Homo sapiens: one gene and its partner. The protein of the gene in region 1 binds, or shares a complex with, the protein of each later gene. Each region holds a gene or a part of one and is shown in the gene's direction. Other genes may lie near its edges.

Region 1 (3,750 bases):
GGAAGAAAGCTGATTGCAACTGAGAGGTCATTTCTGCCCATGGTCGCATGAGAGATAGGTACAAGACATATCTCGTATCTCTTTCAGACACCACCTCTTGTATCCATGCAAGCCGAGGCTCCTATTTCTCATACCACCTCTTCCATGCAGCCCCCAGGTATTAGGGCCTCCTGTGTTTTAATTTTGTCCCATCCTCTCTGGAAGGTAGGAGGGAGATGCAGCCGTGAAGGATCATGGGCACTTCGTAAAAGCACTGAGCTTCCAGGCTGATGCAGGTCTAAGGCTGCCTTCTTTGCTGAACTGGAAAGGGTGATGCCCTGTGAAAGCTTATGGTCTGTCTGTGTACACAAAGAGCAGGTATCAGGCAGCAATAGGAGTGGGACCATGGCTGTAAATGCTCTGTGAGCACTGAGAAGGGAGGCGAGTTCTGAGGGGATGGGGTGGCCTTTAGAACGGGCATGGTGGCTCATGCCTATAATCCCAGCACTTTGGGAGGCTGAAGCAGGAGGATTGCTTGAGCCCGGGAGTTCACAACCAGCCTGGGCAACATAGCAAGACCCCATCTCTTAAAAATTATTTTTTTGTTTGTTAATTAGCTGGGTGTGATAGCATGCATCTATCTGTAGCCCTAGCTACTCAGGTGGCTAAGGCTGGAGGGTCCCTTGAGTCCAGGAGTTGAAGGCAGCAGTAAGCTATGATAACACCACTGTACTCCAGCCTGGGTGACAAAATGAGACCCCCATCTTTTAAAAAAAAAATTATTAGCCAGGCATGGTGGCGCTCACCTGTAGTCCCAGGTGCTTGGGAGGCTGAAGCAGGAGGATCGCTTGAACCCAGGAGGTCAAGGCTGCAATGAGCTGAGATTACGCCATTGCATTCCAGCCTGGGTGACAAAGTGAGACTCTGTCTCAAAATAAATAAATAAAATTTAAAAATTAAAAGAATTTACCTTCCTCATCCTCAAGAAAGTGTAGAAGTCAGATTTGGATGAAATCTATTGTCAGGGATTGGGGTTCTGGAAAGCTTCGCAGGGATGATGTTGCCCAGCCCAATTAGGGTGGTCTGGACAGATGTGCAAAGGCTGGAGACCTGCAAGAATGCAGCCTGTTGGGAAAGTATGTGTAGTTAGTCCTAAGGTCCAAGACTAGATCAAGAGGAAGTATAGACGCGAGAGTCGTGGGATCCCGGGCACATCGGCTGTGTTGAGTGTGGCGTGTGCCTCATGGGCTCCAGGGGAAGGAAGAAGAACACTTTGGCCAGAAATGCTCTCCTCCCCCATCCCACTCAAACCACTGAGTCTGGAGACGTGCTAAGTGTTGTTGGTTGTGGGCACCTTTAGTGATAACACCCTCCCCCTCTCCCCTCGCAGTGACCCAACAGGAGAAGACCCCACCGCCTAGACCCAGCCCGCTAGAGGCAGGCAGTGATGGCTGTGAGGAGCCGAAGCAGCAGGTGTCTTGGGAGCAGGAGTTCCTGGTGGGCAGCAGCCCAGGAGGCAGCGGGCGGGCACTGTGCATGGTGTGTGGCGCTGAGATCCGGGCACCCTCGGCCGACACAGCTCGCTCGCACATCTTGGAGCAGCACCCTCACACCTTGGACCTGAGCCCTTCTGAGAAGAGCAATATCCTGGAGGCCTGGAGTGAAGGGGTGGCCCTCTTGCAAGACGTGAGAGCTGAGCAGCCGTCCCCACCCAACTCAGGTAGTTGGTCCTGGGGCTGGCGAAGGGAGAAGTCGGACTTGTTGGGGCACTAGAAGCTCATTGTGCTCTTGCTCCCTGCAGACTCGGGCCAGGATGCCCACCCAGACCCAGACGCCAACCCAGACGCTGCCAGAATGCCAGCCGAAATCGTCGTTCTCCTTGACTCTGAGGATAACCCATCCCTCCCTAAAAGGAGCCGGCCCAGGGGACTCCGCCCCCTCGAGCTTCCTGGTTAGTCAACAGAGAAGCCAGTGAGCCCCGGTGGAGGTGGGGGTTTGGGGACAGGGTGAAATACAGGCCCTGTGTTCTGGGCAGGTATCTTCAGGAGCCCTGGGGTGGCAGGGTTCGGGGATGGCCTCTTTAAAAGGGTATGAGGTCTTTTCTTTTTGCAGCTGTCCCTGCCACAGAGCCAGGAAATAAGAAGCCCCGTGGTCAGAGATGGAAGGAACCCCCAGGGGAAGAGCCAGTCAGAAAGAAAAGAGGCAGACCTATGACCAAAAACCTGGACCCTGACCCAGGTGAAGGGGAGGCCCGGGGGAGGCGTGGGCTCTGGCCGCAGTGCTCTGAGGAAATCCGCATCAGTGAGGATGGAGCAGGGCCTGGGCGCAGGGCGCCTGCAGCTCCTGAGGCTTTTTCACTCACAGTTCCATCCCGTCCTCCCTTCCAGAGCCCCCATCGCCAGACTCGCCCACGGAGACTTTCGCAGCACCAGCCGAGGTCCGACACTTCACTGACGGCAGCTTCCCCGCCGGCTTCGTCTTGCAGCTCTTCTCCCACACCCAGCTCAGGGGCCCAGACAGCAAGGACTCACCCAAAGACAGGGAAGTGGCAGAAGGAGGCCTTCCCCGGGCGGAGAGCCCCTCTCCAGGTGAGCCCTCCTGAGAGGGAAGCACAGTAGGGACCTCGCAGGCAGCGCTCCTGGGCCAGGCCTCAGAGAGGCTGCTCTATGGCAGAGCCCACAGTAGGGGTGGGTGGGGTGGGTGGGGTGGGTGGTGCTCAGGTTTCCTGGTACACGGGGCCGGGGCAGGGGATCTGAATGATGAGGAAGGCTGGCCTGAAAGCTGAGCTTTTCTTTTTCTGTTTGTTTGTTTTTTGAGACGGAATCTTGCTCTGTTGCCCAGGCTGGCATGTAGTAGCACAAGCCCGGCTCACTACAACCTCTGCCTCCCAGGTTCAAGCAATTCTCCTGCCTCACCCTCCCTAGTAGCTGGGATTACAGGCGTGCGCCACCATACCCGGCTAATTTTTGTATTTTTAGTAGAGACAGGGTTTTCCCATGTTGGCCAGGTTGGTCTCAAACTCTTGACCTCAGGTGATCCAACTGCCTTGGCCTCGCAAAGTACACCACGCCTGGCCTATTTTTTTATTTTTTATTTTTTGAGACAAGAGTCTTGCTCTGTCGCCCAGGCTGGAGTGCAGTGGCGCGATCTCGGTTCAGTGCATCCTCTGCTTCCCAGGTTCAAGCGATTCTCCTGCCTCACCCTCCTGAGTAGCTGGGATTACAGGCGTGTGCCACCATGCCCAGCTAATTTTTGTATTTTTAGTAGAGACAGGGTTTCGCCATGTTGGCCAGGCTGGTCTCGAACTCCTGACCTCAGGTGATCCACCTGCCTCAGCCTCCCAAACTGCTAGGATTACAGGCGTGAGCCACCGCACCTGACCAGGTGGGCTTTTCTTAGTGTTTCCTTGTTTCCTGGAATTGGTCACTGGGTCCGGGTAGGCCAGTGTTTCCCAGAAGCCTGATACTGATTTCCACACATGCAGTTTGTTCTAGCTAGAGCCTGAGGGGTGCCCACCTTACCCTGGTGGAGCTGAGGCCCAGATGGGGCCACTCAGCAATTCAGTTAGGTGTCCAGAGAATAGATAAGATGAGCAGTGGACAGACACCTCCAGGGGACACCAGCTCAGTAAATTGCCTCATAACAGCAGTAAGTGCTTGTGTTGTTTGGGCTCCTACTGAGTTTAAGAAGCTTACATACAAGGCAAGTCGTGGTGGCTCACGCCTGTAATCCCAGCACTTTGGCAGGCTGAGGCGGGCAGATCACCTGAGG
Region 2 (3,750 bases), on another chromosome or scaffold:
GTGAATCTCCTCCCAGTCTCCTTGGTTAGGTTCAGACCCCCTTGCTTAGTTTTTCACCCCCAGGAGAGAAGCTTCCCTTCTGCGGCGAGTACTCCTTATTGTCTCTTATGGCCTGTTCCCGTCTGACTTAGCTAAATATATGTTACCAGTCTAGAGTAAATTATTTCTATTTAGAAAATATATAATTTTAGTTTTAGCTGTTACAACCTACAATAAATTGTTTCTTTAAAACTTATTTGTGTTATATGTCAGATATTAATCACTTTTATTCATGGTGTACGAAATGAGAGCTTTATACCCATAAAACTGTGGGAAGGGAATTCCTTTCAGGTCTTTTTGTTCTTGGCGTATATCAGCATCTGTTATCTTGGTTTTGACCTTCAGCTTGCATCCAAGAAGCCAGGGTTTTAAGGTGAAATGAAGATTTTTTCCTGATATCAAGAGCCAGGTGTATTATTTATAAACATTCTGTGTGGATTTTTCAATTGCTAATAATAAGCCAGAAAAAAAGTAGTTTGATGTTTCAATAATTTTTAATATTACATTGTTATAAACTTCAGTTTTAAGATTATATGTTTTCTAGACAAGTAATGTTTCTATAGTGCATTGATATAAGCTAGTCTGGACTTCAGTTTAAGAGAAAATTGTCTAGTTTATTTTTATTAGTTAAGCTTGTACAGGCAGAATTATTTGGGCACGGGAATGGGTGAAATTGAATAGTTACACATTTCTTTTTAACTTGAAGTAGATATTATATAAAACTATATACCTGTGTGATTATTGATAACATGTATTTCACGGATCAGTCCTTCTTTAATTAACTTGGAAAATTTTGAGTTGATTGAATTAAAATAAACTCAGAAAGCTGATAACCTGATGCTTAATAGTAGGGCTTAAGTTGCTATTGACTAGTAGTTTTTTCTGCCTATACACAGTTGAGGTGCACAACAAGCTCCTATTACTAACATACCATGTTACACACTCACCACCACTGGTACAGGGGTAGAGGACAACCACTTTGAGTCACCTGAAGCAGGAATGTGGCAAACATGAGTTTGTACATATTTTGGGACCATCTGTAATGAGATCATGCTAGCCAGCGGTTATGTTAGATCTAGGCATGCATACTTTTGAGATAATACCTTATGTGTGTATATGTGTGAATACAGAAAACATCGGAGCAGTGTGGGTCCGAGCAAACCTGTTTCCCAGCCCCGGCGGAACATCGTAGGCTGCAGGATTCAGCATGGGTGGAAAGAGGGGAATGGCCCTGTTACCCAGTGGAAAGGAACCGTTCTGGACCAGGTGCCTGTAAATCCTTCTTTGTATCTTATAAAATACGATGGATTTGACTGTGTTTATGGACTAGAACTTAATAAAGATGAAAGAGTTTCTGCGCTTGAAGTCCTCCCTGATAGAGTTGGTAAGTTCTTTTTATAATTTGTGCATTATATACTTTAAAAATGATATTGAACTGGATGCTTTTTTTATTTTACATTATTAATACTTCACTTTTATTGGAACACAAGCACCCTTCTTGATAAACATTATATTAAATCACCGAAAACCACAAAAATGGATCCTAAGCAGTTCAAGGAACTGTGTGAGGGATATAGAGATGTGTATTTTCCCCCCAAGAAGTTTGCCACGTAATAATTTATAATACGGTTATTTCTAACATTTTTGCTCACTGTTCTCTGGACTCTGATGGGTAAGGTTATCAGTAGCTGAAATATCCTATATGTTAATCTCATCTCATCAGATACAAAAGATAAGAGAATGCTGTGCCTTTAGAATCTTTCTGTGAAAGTGTATCTTTGTGTACAACGTAAATGATAATTGTACTTTGAGCCAAAATTTAAACAACCAAAACGTGGTCTTTATTATACACAGAGCTTGATTGAACAATGTTTGTGGAAATGAATGGCTCTTTTTAAATGTCATACAGTGCCAGTTTTGCCCTGCAAGTGTTCCTTAAGGCATAAGGTCTAAGGTAAATAATAATTACTGATTTTATTAGTAGGGTGGGATACACCCAAACTAATATTACTTTTTTTTGAAGTATTTATTTTGAAATATTTTCTTATTACAGTGATGCTGCTCTTGTTTAAAATATTGGTTTATACTTTTAGAATTGTCTTTATAAGTCTATACCATTAAATAATAAAGTTTCAGCAGATCTAGACTTGGGAGGTAGGAATTTTGGGATCAAATTGTCACAGGAAGAAATTAGTTCAGTCTCCTCGCTTTGTTTTTCTTCAGACTGTGCCATTGTGTCCCTGGGATATAACGAGTTTCCTTAGGAAGTTAATTCTGCCTTAGTAGCAAGTTATTTTGTTTTACTCTTCTCTTTAGATATCAAATGCTAAATCCTTGCTCATCTGTATAAATATGGTTCAGTTTTCAAAGAAATCTTTCTTTAAATTTAAATCTTTATTATTACTCCTAAAAGTAATATTAAGTCTTTGTTATTTTCAACATTCTCATCTATTCTTAAGTGTGACTGATCACCTGCTCTTCCTCTTGATGCACATCCTACATTTCTTCTTGATCATGGCATTAATCCATTTCCCATATAAGAAACTTTAACATATTAAAAATCTTAACAGCAGAATTTTAGTCTCTGCCCCTTCTGAGACGACAGCTAGCTCACTTGAAGGTTCCTGCATATTGCTGCATGACCTGTGGTTGTTGGTCCTTTTGTCATCGAAGGATAGAAACTGTACAAGTATCTCTGGTGATGGGACTAAGGGTTCCATGTTGTTTGTAGTTTGGTATTATCTCTGTTTCCAACAATAGTAATTTTGTAAACATTCAAGCAATATAAAAAGAAACCCAAGAGCTTTTCTGTAAATCAGCAATATATATGCCTAATTCAGCTAATAGTTGTTATTAATTTTAGTATTCGTGGTATTAGGTTGGTGCAAAAGTAATTGCGGTTTTTGACATTGAAATTGAAAGTAATGGCCAAAACAGCAGTTACTTTGGCATCAACCTACTTTAGTCTAAAAAATTACTTGCTCTTCACTTACGTTTTACGTCGGAAGCAATTGCTTCAGGCAGTACATTAGAGTATAATTAAAATTATGTTTTTCTTAAGCTAAAGTTAGAGAAAAAAGTCAGTCAGCCAGAATGCATGTGATGTCACAGAGCAGTGGTTCCCAAAGCAAGGCCTGGGGACCCTTGGGTTCTCTGAAGCCCATTCAGGAGATTTGCAAGGTCAGAAATATTTTCATTTTGTTAAGCTGTAATTCGCGCTTTTCACTCTCTCTTTTTCTCAATTACACAGTGGAGTTTCCCACTATCTATTTGGAAGATTTGCATAACTTAGTGAACACAATATTTTCTTTATGAGCAGTGCATGGTACCACATCATGCATTGGTGAAAGAGCTATTCAAAGTGCAAGACTAACTACTTTTTTTTTAATTGTAAAAAAACATAGCATAAAATTTACTGTCCTAACCATTTTTAAGTGTACAGTTCAGTAGTGTGTTAAGTACATTCGCATTGTTGAAACAGATCTCCAGAACTACTTCATCTTACAAATCTGAAACTCTCTACCTATTAAACAAAACAACCTACCTTTCCTCCCATTCCCAGCCCCTGGCAACCACCATTCTACACTCTGTCTCTATGAATTTGACTATTCTAGATATCTCATAGAAGTGGAATCACACAGTATTTGTTTTGTGAGTAACTTATTTCACTTAGCATAATGTCCTCAAAGTTGGTTCATGTTGTAACGTGTG

Evidence for each region.
Region 2: the proteins of SPINDOC (region 1) and SPIN1 are in contact, whole or in part, in a crystal structure (PDB 7CNA), measured with the Homo sapiens proteins. Residues at the interface, in NP_612480.1 of Homo sapiens: Phe256 (codon at 2,399), Ala258 (codon at 2,405), Pro259 (codon at 2,408), Ala260 (codon at 2,411), Val262 (codon at 2,417), His264 (codon at 2,423), Phe265 (codon at 2,426), Thr266 (codon at 2,429), Asp267 (codon at 2,432), Ser269 (codon at 2,438), Phe270 (codon at 2,441), Pro271 (codon at 2,444), Gly273 (codon at 2,450), Phe274 (codon at 2,453), Val275 (codon at 2,456), Leu276 (codon at 2,459), Gln277 (codon at 2,462), Leu278 (codon at 2,465), Phe279 (codon at 2,468), Ser280 (codon at 2,471); in NP_006708.2 of Homo sapiens: Met154, Thr169, Tyr170, Glu171, Pro174, Pro206, Val209, Val210, Leu213, Lys216, Gln217, Val218, Glu219, Tyr220, Thr229, Val232, Val242, Tyr243, Ile245, Phe247, Asp249, Asp250, Tyr254, Val255, Tyr256, Asp257, Leu258, Val259, Lys260, Thr261.

Annotation. Positions count from the first base shown.
Region 1 is NC_000011.10:63,816,436-63,820,185, forward strand, and holds part of SPINDOC (spindlin interactor and repressor of chromatin-binding protein), read left to right. Parts: intron 1-1,369; coding exon 1,370-1,699; intron 1,700-1,780; coding exon 1,781-1,930; intron 1,931-2,091; coding exon 2,092-2,217; intron 2,218-2,366; coding exon 2,367-2,567; intron 2,568-3,750. UniProt on the Homo sapiens protein: Chromatin protein that stabilizes SPIN1 and enhances its association with histone H3 trimethylated at both 'Lys-4' and 'Lys-9' (H3K4me3K9me3).
Region 2 is NC_000009.12:88,461,327-88,465,076, forward strand, and holds part of SPIN1 (spindlin-1), read left to right. Parts: intron 1-1,169; coding exon 1,170-1,423; intron 1,424-3,750. UniProt on the Homo sapiens protein: Chromatin reader that specifically recognizes and binds histone H3 both trimethylated at 'Lys-4' and 'Lys-9' (H3K4me3K9me3) and is involved in piRNA-mediated retrotransposon silencing during spermatogenesis.